Linked DNA regions of Homo sapiens: region 2 is linked to region 1. A link means that fine-mapping ties the variant in region 1 to the expression of a gene that starts in the linked region. Tissue or cell type: monocytes after LPS. Region 1 holds a variant in brackets; the other region holds the start of a gene. All regions are shown on one strand. Distances are from middle to middle.

Region 1 (8,104 bases):
GCCTGCATGGGGATAGGCAGAGCCAGAGAGTGGCCACAGGCCTGCTGCGGCAAGAAGGCAGGTGGCACGTGAGCCACCGCACCCGTCCTTCCCGGGCTGGTGGTATCTGCCTGTGTCCCTGTGCTTATGGCTGCTGGCGTAAACGTAGTTACTGGCCCCTCGTAGCAGGCCTCAAGGACTCCGTGGGCCCTACCTGTGCTCCTGTGTTTCTTGTGGCTGGGGCAGCAGCAGGCTGTGAGAAGCTCCTCCTTCATACGAGGGTTTCAGACCATGCTGGGTGTGCCAGGATGCCTTCGTGGGCAGTGGGTGGCAAGGCCGCTCCGTCCTGGCAAGCCTGCCCCTGCGCACTCGCGCGGTGGATGCATACAGGTGGCCGGTGCTCCCTTCCTTGAGAATGGAGGCCGCTTGGCGGGAGACACCCAAGGGAACGGCAGCACCTTGACAGGTTTGCTTCACTGCCCTTGGCTCCTGCCTTGCCGGAGTCTGTGTGTCCCTCAAGAGGGGCCGGTCTGCAGGGTACAGAGGGACCAAGGGATGTCCCCCCAGGGTACAGATGGTCCAGGAGGATGCTTTGCAGCTTCTCAGTGGGCATTGCCCCAGGGAGGCTGGTCTGCCCGATGCCAGGTGCTCAGGGATGGAGGATCCAAGCCTAAGCCACTTCCAGGCCTGTCAGGGCAACCTCCTCGGCTCCTGCAGCACAATCTTTCTGGTTCACTGCAGTAACCCTGGGTCCAGAACAGCCCTGACATGTCACAGCCCCTCCCCGTTCAAAAGCTGGTCTCTCAGCTCGTCCTCACAAGCACCTGTGAGGCAGGAGATGCCCTCCTTTGCAGGTGAGACACGGAGGCACAGAGGTCAGGCTGCTAAGGGTGCCACCAGGGTCTCCCCCACGCCCACAGAACCACCTCCTGCCTTCCACAGCAGCTGTGTGTGGGAGGAGGACAGTTGTGGGTGATTGCAGGCCAGGTGTGATGCTGAGCAGGAGAGGAGGAGCACAGGTGAAAGGAGCTTGTGTCCCATAGGCTGGGGGTTTCTTTTTCCAATGCAATGTGATCTCCCCCTACCCCCTGTCAGACCCCCTTGGGCTGCTGGTGAAGAAGTGTGAGTAACTAGACTCCTCAGTTAGTGACAGGCTTTTTTCCCCAAGCCAGACAATGGGGAGTTCACAAAGGAGTTTGGATCTTAGATCATAAAGTGAGTCCCTTGCTTAGTGTTCTGCAGGATGTGGTTTAGTTTCAGGATCTGAGTTCTAACTGCCAATCTCAGGCCACTGGCGGTAGTGGGAGGCTGCTGTGGGTCCAGCCTGGGGGCCTGGCCACCCATACAGTGTCAGATTAGAGCCAAAGGCCACAGAGCTGGGTGGAGGGCGCTGCTTCCTTGTGGGAGCCTATGACATTTTGCCCGTTACGTAGAAATCCAAGCTAACTGGCCCCAGAGTTGCTGCCAGGTTGAAGTGTCCACTCCGAGACGTTTTGGGCAGAAGCTTGCAGATTTGCCCCTCCATTTAACTTAGGGGACAAGGGCTATGCTGACCTCCCCAACAGTGGCCTGGGGCAGGGAGCGGGAGAAGTGGCAGGCCCTGTGGGAAGGGCTGCAGGAAAGGAGGGGCCAGAAGTGGGGCCAGGCAGCAGTTCACCCACCCCAGCGCCCCTTTAGTCAGGACCTGCAGTGTCCAGCATGGTGGGCTCAAGCCCCACGTGGCCATCAGACACCTGGAAAGTGCCCCGTCCAAATCGACATGTGCCACAAATGAAAACACTTGATTTCAAAGACTCAGTATGAAAAATCAAATCAAATCTCTCACCGATGATTTTTTTATATTGATTGCATTTGGAATTATATTTTGGATTTAAGGTAAATAAAGTGTATTACTGTATTTAATGTTACCTGTTTCTTTTTACATTTTATTTTATTTTATTTTTATTTATTTATTTTTAGGCAGAGTCTCACTCTGTCAGCCAGGCTGGTGTGATCTCAGCTCACTGCAACCTCCACCTCCCGGGTTCAATCGGTTCTTGTGCCTCAGCCTCCCGAGTAGCTGGGACTACAGGCGCGCACCACCACACCCGGCTAATTTTTGTATTTTTAGTAAAGACAGGGTTTTGCCATGTTGGCCAGGCTGGTCTTGAACTCCTGGCCTCAAGCTATCCACCTACCTCAGCCTCCCAAAGTGCTGGGATTACAGGCATGAGTCACCACGCCCAGCCTCCTTTTATTTTATTTTATTTTTTATTTTTTATTTTTTCCTTTTATTTTAAAGTTAAAAAGTAGCTCAGAGATAGTGATTTTAGGTGAAGGATTTGGGCTGTGGCCTCTGTGCCCAAAACTTCTGTCTTCAATTAGATCCTTTCATTTCTACAAAGCGGGCACCACAGCCTCACATCATTTGATCATTTGATCTTTCTTTTTTTTTTTTTTCCGGAGACAGAGTCTCGCTCTTTCGCCCAGGCTGGAGTGCAGTGGCGCGATCTCGGCTCACTGCAAGCTCTGCCTCCCGGGTTCACGCCATTCTCCTGCCTCAGCCTCCTGAGTAGCTGGGACTACAGGTGCCCGCCACCACGCCCAGCTAATTTTTTGTATTTTTAGTGGAGACGGGGTTTCACCGTGTTAGCCAGGATGGTCTCGATCTCCTGACCTCGTGATCCGCCTGCCTCAGCCTCCCAAAGTGCTGGGATTACAGGGGTGAGCCACTGCGCCCGGCCGATTTTTTTTTTTTAAGAGACAGTCTCAATATGTTGCCTGTAGTGATACATAACAATTGTACGTATTTATGGGGCACATGTGATATTTTGACATTTACACATGCATGTGGCCAGGCTGGTCTCAAACTCCTTGCCTTAAGGGATTCTCCCGTCTCAGCCTCCCAAAATGTTGGAATTACAGGTGTGAGCCACAGTGTCTGGCCATTAATGTTTTTTAGAGGCTTAATGTGTTTCCTGGGTACTTGAGATACAGTGGCAAATGAGAGTGTTGGGAGATGATGAGTTTGATTTAAAAGGCATTTCGAGACATACAAATAAAGATGTCCTGTAGAGAGTTGGATATATAGATAGGAAATTCAGGAGATGTGGACTAGAGGTTAGATGCCACCAACATCTACAGAAGATAATTTAGCCATGGAAGTGTATGAAATTGTCCAGTGGGTATGTCAAATGAAGAGACAGATGGCTTTAGGACAGAAAGAAATATTAACCTTTTTTTTTTTTTTGAGACAGAGTCTCACTCTGTCACCCACGCTGGAGTGCAATGGCGCAGTCTTGGCTCACTGCAACCTCCGCTTCCTGGGTTCAAGTGATTCTCCTGCCTCAGCTTCCCAAGTAGCTGGACTACAGGTGTGTGCCACCACGCCCGGCTAATTTTTGTCTTTTTAGTAGAGATGGGGTTTTACTATGTTGGCCAGGATGGTCTCTATCTCCTGACCTCAAGTGATCCACCCACCTCGGCCTCCCAAAGTGCTGGGATTACAGGCATGAGCCACCGCGCCCGGCCAGCAATATGAATCTTTAAGGAATGGGCAAAGGAAAAGATGGAGTAGTGGAGAGGTAGAAGGAAAACCCAGAGTGCAGTGTCATGAAAATACAGGGAAGGGACGATTGAGAGGAAGGCACGGTCGAGTGCTCAGAGGGCAAGAATGACAAGAGTCCGCTGTTTTCAGCATAAGGAGGTCAGCTGGTGACTTGGTGAGGATGATTTTAATGGAGTAATGGGGTTCAAAATCCAACTGCAGTATTTCAAAGAGTGAACGAGAGGCAAGGGAAGTGGAGACAATGACAGCCCTTTCAGAAAGTTTGGCAGTGGTAGGGAGTACATAATCACTGGGGGAAAAACAGAAGGAAAGACACATTTTTAAAAGAAGTCAGAATAGGTATTAGAATAAGAAAATAAACTGCAGAGACAAGTATAAGGTTCTGGGAAGCGGCCAATAGTTAGGAGAAGTGCGTGAGGTGAGAATGCCCCCCTAGTTGATCGATGGATATGTAATAATTGTACCTATATATGGGGTACATGTCGTATTTTGATATTTACACACGAATACAATGTGCAATGATCAAATCAC[A/G]TTGATTATGATACCCATCACCTCAAACGTTTATCATTTATTTGTGTTGGAAACATTTCAAATCTTCTAGCTATTTTTAAATATGCAATAAATTATTACAACTATCATCACCCTAGTGTGCTATCAAACACTGGAATATATTTCTTCTATCTAACTTTATGTTTGTACCCATTAATCAACATATATTCATCTCCCACCCCATCCTTCCTAGCCTCCAGTAACCATCATTCTACTCTCTACCTACATTAGACCAACTTTTTTTTTTTTTTTTTGAGATGGAGTCTTGCTCTGTCGCCCAGGCTGGAGTGCCGTGGCGTGATCTTGGCTCATTGCAACCTCTGCCTCCTAGGTTCAAGTGATTCTCCTGCCTCAGCCTCCGGAGTAACTGGGATTACAGGCACGCGTCACCATGCCCGGCTAATTTTTTATATTTTTGGTACAGACGGAGTTTCGCCATGTTGGCCAGGCTGGTCTCAAACTCCTGACCTCAGGTGATCTGCCTGCCTCAGCCTCCCAAAGTGCTGGGATTACAGGCGTGAGCCACTGTGCCTGGCCAAGATAAACTTTATTAACTCCCACGTATGAGTGAGAATGTACAGTATTTGTCTTCTGTACCTGGCTTATTTCACTTAACATAATGACCTCCAGTTCTATCCATGTTGCTACAAACGACAGGAATTTTTTTTTTTTTTTTTTTTTTGAGACGGAGTTTTCCTCTTGTTGCCCAGGCTGGAGTGCAATGGCGCGATCTCGGCTCACTGCAACCTCCGCCTCCCAGTTTCAAGCAATTCTCCTGCCTCAGCCTCCTGAGTAGCTGGAATTACAGGCATGCACCACCACACCTGGCTAATTTTGTATTTTTACTACAGACGGGGTTTCTCCATGTTGAGGCTGGTCTCGAACTCCTGACCTCAGGTGATCTGCCTGCCTCAGCCTCCCAAAGTGCTGGGATTACAGGCGTGAACCACCGCGCCCGGCCTAGGATTTCCTCCTTTGACGATGAATAGTTCTCCACTGTGTAAGTGTACCTCATTTTCTTTATCCATTCACATGCTGATGGACACTTAGGTTGATTCCTATCTTGGCTATTGTGAATAGTGCCGCAGTAAACATGAGTAAAGACAACTCTTTGATATACTGATTTCCTTTCTTTTGGAAATATACCCAGCAGTGGGATTGCTGGATCATATGGTAGGTCTATTTTTCAGCTTTTTGAGAAAACTCCAGTGTTTTCCACAGTGGCTGTATAGTTTACATTCCCACCAGCAGAGTACCTGCTTTCTCCACATCCTCACCAGCATCTGTTGTCTTTTTGTTAATAATCATTTTAACTGGATGAGATGATATCTCATTGTGGTTTTGATTTGCATTTCTCTGATGATTAGTGATGTTGACCCTTTTTTTTTTGGCTTTTTTTTTTTTTTTTTTTTTGAGACAGAGTCTCTGTCACCCAGGCTGGAATGCAGTGTGCAATCTCAGCTCACTGCAACCTCTGCCACCCGGGTTCAAGCAATTCTTGGGCTTCAGCCTCCCAAGCAGCTGGGACTACAAGCACAAGCTACCATGCCCAGCTAATTTTTGTATTTTTAGTAGAGACAGGGTTTTACCATGTTGGCCAGACTAGTCTCAAATTCCTGGCCACAGTAATCCACCTGCCTCAGCCTCCCAAACTGCTGGGATTAACAGGCGTGAGCCACTGCACCTGGCCCCTGTTGGCCGTTTGTACATCTTTTGTAAAATGTCTATTCAGATCACTTGCCTTTTAAAATCAGATTATTACTATTATTATTTTTTTTTTTTGCTATTGAGTTGTGCGAGTTCCTTATATATTCTCGTTATTCTTTTTTTTTTTTTTCTTTTTTTGAGACGGAGTCTCACTCTGTCGCCCAGGCTGGAGTGCAGTGGCACGATCTCGGCTCACTGCAACCTCCACCTCCCGGGTTCACGCCATTCTCCTGCCTCAGCCTCCCGAGTAGCTGGGACTACAGGTGCTCACCACCGCGCCCGGCTAATTTTTTTGTATTTTCAGTAGAGACGGGGGTTTCACCGTGTTAGCCAGGATGGCCTCGATCTCCTGACCTCGTGATCCGCCCATCTTGGCCTCCCAAAGTGCTGGGATTACAGGTGTGAGCCACTGCGCCTGGCCTATTTTTTTTTTTTTTTTTTTTTTTTTGGCAAACCCATTTCTGTAGGATATTCTGGTCATTCATCCCTTGTCAGATGGATAGTTAGTAAAAAATTTCTCCCATTCTGTAGGTTGTCTCTGTTGTTTCCTTGGCTGTGCAGGTTTTTAGAGTGATATAATCCCACTTATCTATTTTAGCTTTTGTTGCCTTTGCTTTTGAGATCTTACCCAAAAAATCTTTGCCCAGACCAGTGTCCTGAAGCATATCCCCAATGTTTTCTTCTAGTAGTTTCATACTTTCAGGTTTTACATTTATGTCTTTCATCTTTAATCTATTTTGATTTGATTTTTATATATGGTGAGAGATAGGTTTTTGTTTTGTTTTGTTTTTGTTTGTTTGTTTTACAGAGTCTCACTCTTTCTCCCAGGCTGGAGTGAAGTGGCGTGCTCTCAGCTCACTGCAACCTCCACTCGCCGCTCCACTCCCTGGTTCAAGCAATTCTCCTGCCTCAGCCTCCCAAGTAGCTGGGATTACAGGTGTGTGCCACCACACCTGGCTAATTTTTGTATTTTTAGTAGACAGGTTTCGCCATGTTGGCCAGGCTGGTCTCAAACTCCTGACCTCAAATGATCTGCCCACCTCGGCCTCCCAAAGTGCTGAGATTACAGGCATGAGCCACTGCACCCGGACAAGATAGGGTTCTAGTTTCATTTTTCTGCGTATCCTCAAAATGTATTTCCAGTTTTCCCAGCACCATTCACTGCTCTTTCCCCAGTTAATGTTCTTGGCACCTTTGTTGAAAATCAGTTCACTGAATATATGGACTTATTTCTGGGTTCTCTATTTTGTTCTATTGGTCTATGTGTCTGTTTTTATATCAGTAACATGCTGGGTTTTGTTTTTTGAGACAGGGTCTCACTCTGTTCCCCAGGCTGGAGTGCAGTGGCACGACTTTGGCTCACTGCAAATTCTGCCCCCGGGTTCAAGACATCCTCCCAAGTAGCTGGGATTACATGTGTGCACCACTACGCCAGGCTGATTTTTGCATTTTTAGTAGAAATGGAGTTTTGCTATGTTAGCCAGGCTGGTCATGAACTCCTGGCCTCATGTGAGCTGCCCACCTTGGCCTCCCAAAATTCCGGGATTATAGGTATGAGCCACTGTGCCTGGCCCATGCTGTTTTGATTATTATAGCTTTGTACTATATTTTAAAGTAGTGTGATGCCTTCAGCTTTGTTCTTTTTGCTCAGGATTGATTTAGGCTGTTCAGCGTCTTCTGTCATTGTATATGAATTTCGGGATTTTTTTTCCCTATTGCTGTGAAGAATGTCATTGGTATTTTGATGGGGATTGCATTTAATCTGTAAATTGCTTTTGGTAGTATTGTCATTTTCACCAAATTAATTATTCCAATCCATGAACATGAGATGACTTTCCGTTTTGTGTGTGTGTGACCTATTCATCAGTGTTTTATAATTGTCCTTGTAGAGCTCTTTAACCTCATTGGTTAATTTTCTTTTTTTTTTTTTTTTTTTTGAGACAGAGTCCGGCTCTGTCATCCAGGCTGGAGTGCGATGGTGCCATCTCGGCTCACTGCAACCTCCGACGCCCAGGTTCAAGCGATTCTCCTGCCTCAGCCTCCCGAGTAGCTGGAACTGCAGGTGTGTGCCACCAGGCCCGGCTAATTTTTTGTATTTTTAGTAGAGATGGGGTTTCACTGTATTAGCCAGGATGGTCTCAATCTCCTGACCTCGTGATCCACCATCTCGGCCTCCCAAAGTGTTAGTATTACAGGTATGAGCCACTGCGCCCAGCCTCATTGGTTAAATTTATTCCTAGGTTTGTTTTTTGGTTTTGGTAGCTATTGTAAATGGAATTGCTTTCCTGGTTTTTTTTGGTAGTTTGGTATGTAGAAATGTTA
Region 2 (8,104 bases), 36 kb before region 1:
AGTTTTCTCAAGCTGCTTCTGGCCCATTTGTGTTGGTCTGGGTCCTCCAAGAAGAAGACACCAAGATTAAGGATACAAACGTCGTGTTCAGAGAAATGTCTGGGGTAGAAAATAGTGAGGTAACCAGGAAGATGGAGGGGCCATCAGATGGCTTCAAGCTTGACACCAAGTGGAGAGAAGTTTGGGTGGAAGTGTCTCAGGCAGCTCTGCGGTGATGCCTTCCCACCGCAGCTGACAGTTGGAGAATGACATTGGTTTGTGCCATTACTTGTGGTTTTGTCTTAGATCATTTGACCAGGGTGCTGTTTGCCTGGTTTGTCTCCTGTGAAGTTACCTTATTCCCCTTTGTAATTAATAATAATTACATTGCATGGTGATGTTTTGACACTGTGTAAACATCCTGAGCCTCATGCCCTGGAGACACCTGGCTTTCACAGGTATTGGTGCTTCTTGCCTGAGTTACCACCATGGTGGCTGCTGTGGCTGACTGAGGATGCCACAGGTTCTTTGGCCTCCCTCCCTTTGAGAGCAGGAGCAATATCTTCAATGTCTTCTTGAATCTGGGCAGGCTCAGTCACTGCCTTGACCAAGAGAATGATGATAATTTGAGAAAAAATTTCCAAAAGGACTGCATATAAACATTAAACTTCAGGGTCCTGAAAGTCCAGGAGATGGAGAGGCTGTTCTAGACTGAAGGAGACAAGAAACAGGACAAGTGGGTGCAACTTGTGACCCTCGGCCGATTCCTGATGCTCTGAGGGATTGCTCCGCAGTAAGCAGGTCACACAAACCTACCCCCAAAGGCCAAGGGAGCTGAGAGGCTGAAAAAAGAGGCTGACAAATGGAGTTTCTCCAAAAGAAACATTTACTAGAAACTTATGAACAAAGTAGTATCTCGGGCAGCCACAAGACAGTGGATCCCTGCACCTGCCCCCCAGAAAGCATCCTTTATATAGCAAGCTTTTTGGTAAAAACATGTGCAGCTGGTGATGTCTTAGACTTTCTTGCAAAATTCATGACTGCTGGGGAAGTTAGGTAGCATCTTTCTGAGGGGTTATCAATGCTACAGGCCTTGTGTGAAGACCTTGGTATGCAGGAGTCTAACATCGGCCACCACAGTGATTTTGCTTCGAGATGACACCACTCTTGCCAGGCAACAGGCTCCTTTCCTTCAGAGACATTGCAGGGACACCTGGTGACCCTTGAATGGGGGTCTCTGGGAAGGTGCACTATTCATGCAACCTTTTATCTAAGCTTGAAATTGTTTCAAGCTAAATTAACTTACAAATGTTGATCATAGTAAGGAAGGAGACCACCACTTCTCCTACTGCCCTCCTCTCCCCCTGTCTTGCCTAGTTTATAAGACAGGAGAAATGGGAGAAAACAAAAAGTGAGAAAGAAACAGAAGATAAATAGCCAGATGACCTTGGTGCCATCACCTGGCCCTGGTGTTAATAATATCAACCCCTAACCTAAACTACTTGTGTTATCTGTAAATTCCAGACATTGTATAAGAAAGCATTGTAAAACTTTCTGTTCTGTTAGCTGATGCTTGTAGCCTCCAGTCATGTTCTCCATGCTTTCCCAGTCTATCATAATAACCCTTTCACGTGGACCCTTTAGGGTTGTAAGCCCTTAAAAGGGCCAGTAATTTCTTTTTCGAGGAGCTCAGCTCTTAAGACACAAGTCTGCCAAAGCTCCCAGCCAAATAAAACCCCTTCCTTCTTTAACCCAGTGTCTGAGAAGTTTTGTCTGTGGCTCATCCTGCTACAATAAGATGAGAGTTCTCCAGGCACTCCAGGCACTCTGGCCTTTGGGTGGGAACTGTCTCCAAAACTCACCCCCAGGTTCCTGGCTCTCCTCACTTCAGGAGGGGGTGGGTCTGCCACGTAACCACCGCCCAGACCTCACAAGTGATAGCACTTCACCTTTTTGCTTCAGATATTTTAAAGAGAAATAACACCTTACAGATGCAGTCTCTTTCTAAACTTCCCAGATCCATTCCCTTTAAACAATCCTCCCTCAGCATGGTTTTTAGACTTGATTTGTTTTGTCTTAGAAATGGAGTCTTGCCATGTTCCCCAGGCTGGTCTCAAATTCCTGAACTGAAGTGGTCCTCACTCTGCCTCTCAAATAGCTGGGACTATAGGTTGCCCTCACCTCCTGCTGTGAGGTCAGTTCCTAACAGGCCACTGACCTGTAGCGGTCCACAGCCTGAGGGTTGGGGACCCCTGCTATAGGTGCACACCACCACACCTGTTTTTTTTTTTAATTTTGTAAAAATGAAGCCTTGATATGTCGCCCAGGCTGGTCTTGAACTCCTAGCCTCAAGTGGTCCTCCCACCTAGTCCTCATAAAGTACTGGGATTGTAGGCATGAGCCACTGCACCCAGTCTCCACTCCTATTTATTATTGAACACTATTCCATTGTATGGCTGATGTGGTTTGCATCTGTGTCCCCGCCCAAACCTCATGCTGAAAGGTAATACCCAATGCTGGAGGTGGAGACTGGTGGGAAGTGATTGGATCGTGGGGGTGGCTTTTCATGAATGGTTTAGTACCATGCCCTTAAGTTATGGTCTCATGATAGAGTTCTCCTGAGATCTGGTTGTCCACCTCCGCCTCCCAAAGTGCTGGGATTACAGGCGTGAGCCACCGCACCCAACCTGTCATTTTTATTATAACCCTTCTAATGGTATGAAATGGCACCTCCCCGTGGCTTCCATTCGCATTTCTCTAATAGCCAACAATGCCGAAGGCTTCATGTACCCATTACCCACTTTGTATCTTCCTTGATGTCTACTCACATCTTCTGCCCATTTAATTAGGTTGTTTCCCTTTTCAGAGTTTTTTTTTTTTTTTTAAGTTTTATTGGGCTATAATTCACATACCATATAATTCACCCATTTTGTACAATTCAATGATTTTGGCATATTATTTTTTAACTATGGTAAAGTACATGTTAAATAAAATGGCTCGGCCATTGTTTCGGACCGAGCTCCTGCGCTAGGGCCCAACAGAGCAGCCCAAAGCGGAACCGAGTCACGCGCGCCGGACGCCACCCGACAGGAGGGGAAACGGGGCAGCTCTCAAAACCCTGGAGGCGCAGACCGTCCACACGGGACAGGGACGCCCGCTCGGCTCCGCTCCGCGCTGATCCTCAAGGTCTCGCGGTTTCCCCGCCGCCCACCCGGACGCCGACGAAAGCCAGCGAGCTCCTCAGCCTCAGGTGACTGGAATTCTGACCCCAGACCACGGGACGCGTTCTCCCGCTTTACCCTCACTCTGCGCGGGCGGGGAGGGAGACGCGGGCGCAGGCCGCAGTTTCTACCTCAGAAACGGAAACACAACACCGCCTTCTTTTTCTTTGGGGAAAGAAAAAAAAAAAACTGTCTAAGACGAGGTCTGGGACCCCGCCGGCGACCCCCGATTCCCCCGGGCGGGGAGGGGGCGGGACCTGGCGCGGCCTCGGCTCCGCCCCTCGGGCCAGCGGACCACAGTGGGGCGGTCATTGCTGCCTTCCTAGAGCGGCCCGGAAGTGGCTCTCAGGGCGCTTCCGGGGACCAGGCCCGCTTTTGGCTGCATCAGCCGGGGATTGCCGGCGCCAGGTGCTGGGGGCGACTCGGACAGCGGGAGCGTGGGGTGGAGTAGGATGGAGTCTCCCTCCCGAGCTGGGGGTGTGGGCCTAGGAAAGGCTGCTTCGCCGCTGTGTTCGGAGAGCTCTGGATACTGCGGGGCTTTTCCGCGGAGGAGCGCCCGCCGGTAGGTTGGCCCCGAACCGTGGGGGCGGCGACGGCCGAGTGCCAATTTGACTCTGTGCACCAAGGTCCCCGCGCCCCGGAACGGGCGACGCCGCGCCCCCATCAGAGCCGCGGGTACGGAGTCAGGGTGCGAACCCGGCCTTCCAAGCCGCGCGACCGGAAGCGGGCAGCTCGGAGGCCTTCCCGGATGGCTCTTTGGAGTGGGAAGGAGCTCCTGGTGCTGGCGGGACGGTGAAGGAGTTGGCAGTGGGTGGTCGTTGACTCCCAGGGAGAATGGGGCGCCGTGAAGCCCGTGGGGAGCTCCTGGGCTCCCCCAGCGCTGTGCAGAGTGGCCTGACAAGTGCCTCGAGGACAGGAGCTGTGCCCCGCTGAGCTCTGCTCCAGTACCTGGTGTGCTGAGGTGGGCACGTGCGTTTCCTCTGGCATAGCAGGTGCTTGTGCTGCTGCACTGCTCCTTCAGGTGCGTCGGAACCCTCTTTAGTTGCCGCACTTGCCTCTGTTGCCAGCCGTTGCTCAGCTCTTCCAGCCCGGGGGTTGGGGCTGTGGTGGAAACAGCTGGGACTTCTGAATAGACAGGTCTAGGCTTCAGTCCTTGACTTTGGCAGCTGTGTTTAGAGCTTTGATTTCTTTTTACTTTTCTTTTCTTCTTCCCTGCCTCCCCTCCCTCCCCCCTCCCTCCATTCGTTCGTTCCTTCCTTCCTTCCTCACAGCATCTCTGTTGTCCAGGCTGGAGTGCAGCGGCTCGATTTCGTCTCACTGCAGCCACGACTTCCTGGGCTCAAGGGATCCTCTGTCCTCTCAGCCTTCTGAGTAGCTGGGACTACAGACGTGCACCACCACGCCTGGCTAGTTTTTTAAATTTTTTGTAGAAACGGGGTCTTGCTATGATGCCCAGGTTGGTCTCCAACTCCTGGGCTCAAGCGATCCGCTGGCCTCACCTTCACAAAGTGCTGAGATTTCAGGCTTGAGCCACTGCACCTGGCCTAGAGCCTTATCTCCCTCTCTGTCAGGTGAGAATGGTAATTCTTCTTGCCCACTGTTGTGAAGGATTCAAGATTGAATAGTTAAATGGTCTCAGTGTGGTCTGTGGCGCCAGCTGCAGTGTCCCTGTGTTCCCCGGACCGTTCCCCTAGTTCATTCTTTCATCTATTAATTTACTTGGAGAACTTGTGCTGTTTCCTGGTCCTCCTCCCTGCCCCCTACTTCTCTGCCAATTCCTGCTTGTCCTTCATGCCTTAGATGTCACTTCCTCTGGGAGGCCTCCGCTCCTCCTGGGACTGACATGGACCCCTCTGCCACCTGCTTCCAGGGCCATCTCCGCAGCACTGACTGTCATTGGTAGTTCACACTGTCAGCATGCTGATGATGGGGACCATATCAACCCTCACTCGCTGGCCCAAAGGATGTGAGAGTCACTGGTCTTCTCTCCTCCACCCCACTCTAGGCATCTGCATCTGGGACCGACCTCCTGGGCTGGCTGATCAAAGAGGAAGCAGCAGCAATGTCTGCTGTGGGGGCTGCAACTCCATACCTGCATCATCCTGGTGATAGTCACAGTGGCCGAGTGAGTTTCTTGGGGGCCCAGCTTCCTCCAGAGGTGGCAGCAATGGCCCGGCTACTAGGGGACCTAGACAGGAGCACGTTCAGAAAGTTGCTGAAGTTTGTGGTCAGCAGCCTGCAGGGGGAGGACTGCCGAGAGGCTGTGCAGCGTCTTGGGGTCAGCGCCAACCTGCCGGAGGAGCAGCTGGGTGCCCTGCTGGCAGGCATGCACACACTGCTCCAGCAGGCCCTCCGTCTGCCCCCCACCAGCCTGAAGCCTGACACCTTCAGGGACCAGCTCCAGGAGCTCTGCATCCCCCAAGACCTGGTCGGGGACTTGGCCAGCGTGGTATTTGGGAGCCAGCGGCCCCTCCTTGATTCTGTGGCCCAGCAGCAGGGGGCCTGGCTGCCGCATGTTGCTGACTTTCGGTGGCGGGTGGATGTAGCAATCTCCACCAGTGCCCTGGCTCGCTCCCTGCAGCCGAGCGTCCTGATGCAGCTGAAGCTTTCAGATGGGTCAGCATACCGCTTTGAGGTCCCCACAGCCAAGTTCCAGGAGCTGCGGTACAGCGTGGCCCTGGTCCTAAAGGAGATGGCAGATCTGGAGAAGAGGTGTGAGCGCAGACTGCAGGACTGACCCCTCACTTGACCAGTCCCATTCAGATCCGGCTTGGACAGGCACCTGAGATGGTGCCAAAGTGCAGCTGACTCTTCCCACGACAGCCCTGCCCTTCCCATGAGGCAGGCTCTTCAGTGAGTGTTTGAACGTAATTATGTAGTTTTCTGTTTAATTGAAAAAGAGAGCTATGCCTTTTTTTCTTTTTGGAAGTAAAGCAGCTAAAAACATGTTTCTATAGGTGAGTGTTGGACCTCACACCCTCCCCTTCCCTGTACATTTGTCTTTGGTGCTGGACGTGGCCATGTGAGGCCAGGTTGAGGCCCTTTGTAGACAACATACAGTTGCTCAGCCTGGCCCCATGTAGCCAGGTGCTTTTGTAGATCTTGTGTTTTAGGTTGGGCATTTTCACTCTTCTGCCTTAAATCCCTGACCCCATGGAGCTGACATTCTAGTGCGGCTGAGGGGAGGGGAAACATTGTAAAATAAATCATAAAAATTAACTGGAATAGCTCATCAGAGGATGGCGTGTGATGCAGCAAGTAGGGTGGGGTCTGCGTGCTGATGGGGCGACCTTCCTTGAGGGTGTGACATCTGAGCGAGGACTTGAAGGAGCCGGGGGCACAGCGCTCTGAGGGGAGCAGCACAAGGTGGGGAGGACGGGGCTCAGGCGGCCAGTGTGGGGAGGCCTGACGTGCTTAAGGCCCGCCTGGCTGCAGCCAAGCAGGTGGAGATCATTGTGGGGAGGCGACGTTGGGGAGGGTACAGAGGTCAAGGCCTGAGAGCCTTTTAAGGACTTTGGCTCAATTCTGAGTGACAGAGGAGCCCTTCTGAGGGTTTTCAGCAGAGGAGAGACGTGATCTGGTGATTGGCTGCTGTGTGGAGGGGTGCAAGGGAGGAGGCTAGAGCCCAGCAGAGAGGCTGTCACCAGGGTGGAGTTGGTGGCAGGGACCTCTCCCGGGTGCCTCTAGGGCAGGTGTGTGCAGGGGTTGTAGCCAGCTTTGCAGCTTCCAGCATAACTGTGTTCCAGGAGGGGCCTTGGTGCTCGGTCTCTGCAGAGCCATTTTCGGTCAGCTGGCTTCCAGCTGACTGTTCCTGCCTCCGTGGAGCACTTCTGGACCATGTCTAGTCTGTTCTCTGCTGAGAAACCTCCCCTTGTCTTTGAGTGCCTGGGGTTGCTTGGCTGTTTGTCTTGTCTGCAGTTTTTGGGTTGTCTCCTCCACTAGCCTGGATTTCTTCCTCATCCCTCCATGGGCAGTTCTGACATGTCAGGGTACAGAGGAGTACCTGGGGGTGGGGTCAGTAGACTCTGGGAGGAGCCCAGGTGCCCTCTAAGGTGCATGCTTGTGGGTCCTGCCATCTGGTCGATCACTCAGCTTTGTCCCACCCTCACTGAGTTCCAGGTAAAGCCCTTCTCTCTCCCCGAAGGCACTGTCCCCCCACTGTCATCGGATCAGGAATATGACCAGCCACTTCCTGCATTCTCTGTCCCCAGATGTGGATGGGGCTGGGGCAGCTGGGACCATGTTGCCTTTCTCACTCACTGGCCCTGGCCCTGCAGGAACAGCAGCTTTAGGGACAGCCCCATCCTTCTGCTTCTCCCAGCTGCTTAGCAAAGCCTGTGTGGAGCCCAGAGCATGGACCTGCCCTCGGTCCTCAGGCTGACCTCTCGCCGTCTCTCATTGGGAATCTGTGTTTGCCTCAATTCATCTGTGAACCCTTGGGCTTGTCTCAAGCGGGGACCCAGGCAAATCAAGACACAGCCATGAAAAGACAGCTTATGAGACACAGGCAGGGGAGTGGGCCATTCCTGGGACTGGGGCTGGCACTGCCCGAGTATAGGGGATTGAGGGATGGGGGATCAAGTGCAGGGACAGCGGCTGGCCTCAAGGCCACACACAGGATTTTGGTCATTCCACTGGGGCAAGGGGGAGCAGTGGGGTTTTAATCAGGGCAGACATGATCCAGTTGGACTTGAGATCCCTACAGCGTGGAGCAGACTTAGAGGCCACTTCCTCTGACTCAGCAGTGAGCAAACTCTTCCCACAAAGGGCCAGAGAGTAAACATTTTAGATTTTGTGGGCCATGAAGTTTCTGTCCACCCTGCCATGGTGGCTTGAAAGCAGTCACACAATACGTAAACAAATGTATATGGCTGTGTTCCAATACCATCTTTTTTTTTTTTTGA

Alleles and levels. Positions count from the first base shown, and alleles are read on the strand shown. Sizes are in standard deviations (SD) of each study's normalised expression.
For the expression in monocytes after LPS of the gene that starts at base 3,553 in region 2, allele A in region 1 goes with a lower level than allele G (moderate effect, 0.69 SD a copy in Quach 2016).

What was found. PIP is the estimated chance that this variant, and not a neighbour inherited with it, causes the effect.
Region 2: COMMD5 starts here. The variant in region 1 is fine-mapped to the expression of COMMD5 in monocytes after LPS (Quach 2016, PIP 0.95).

What each region holds. Positions count from the first base shown.
Region 1 is chr8:144,812,931-144,821,034 of GRCh38, reverse strand. LOC100130027 (a long non-coding RNA gene) reads left to right here. Exons shown (of 5, transcript NR_147501.1): 2 at 4,927-5,075; 3 at 6,591-6,719; 4 at 7,729-7,844. It also overlaps a transcript of ZNF517 not described here. Among named protein-coding and RNA genes, the nearest start is that of ZNF7, 11 kb to the left of the region's middle. The variant A/G (reference allele first, on the strand shown) is at 4,058.
Region 2 is chr8:144,848,497-144,856,600 of GRCh38, reverse strand. COMMD5 (COMM domain containing 5) reads left to right here and starts at 3,553. Exons shown (of 2, transcript NM_014066.4): 1 at 3,553-3,762; 2 at 5,206-6,425. The coding sequence starts at 5,263. The coding sequence ends at 5,937. RefSeq lists enhancers at 2,933-3,032, 3,583-3,912, 3,490-4,338 and silencers at 3,323-3,512, 5,545-5,696.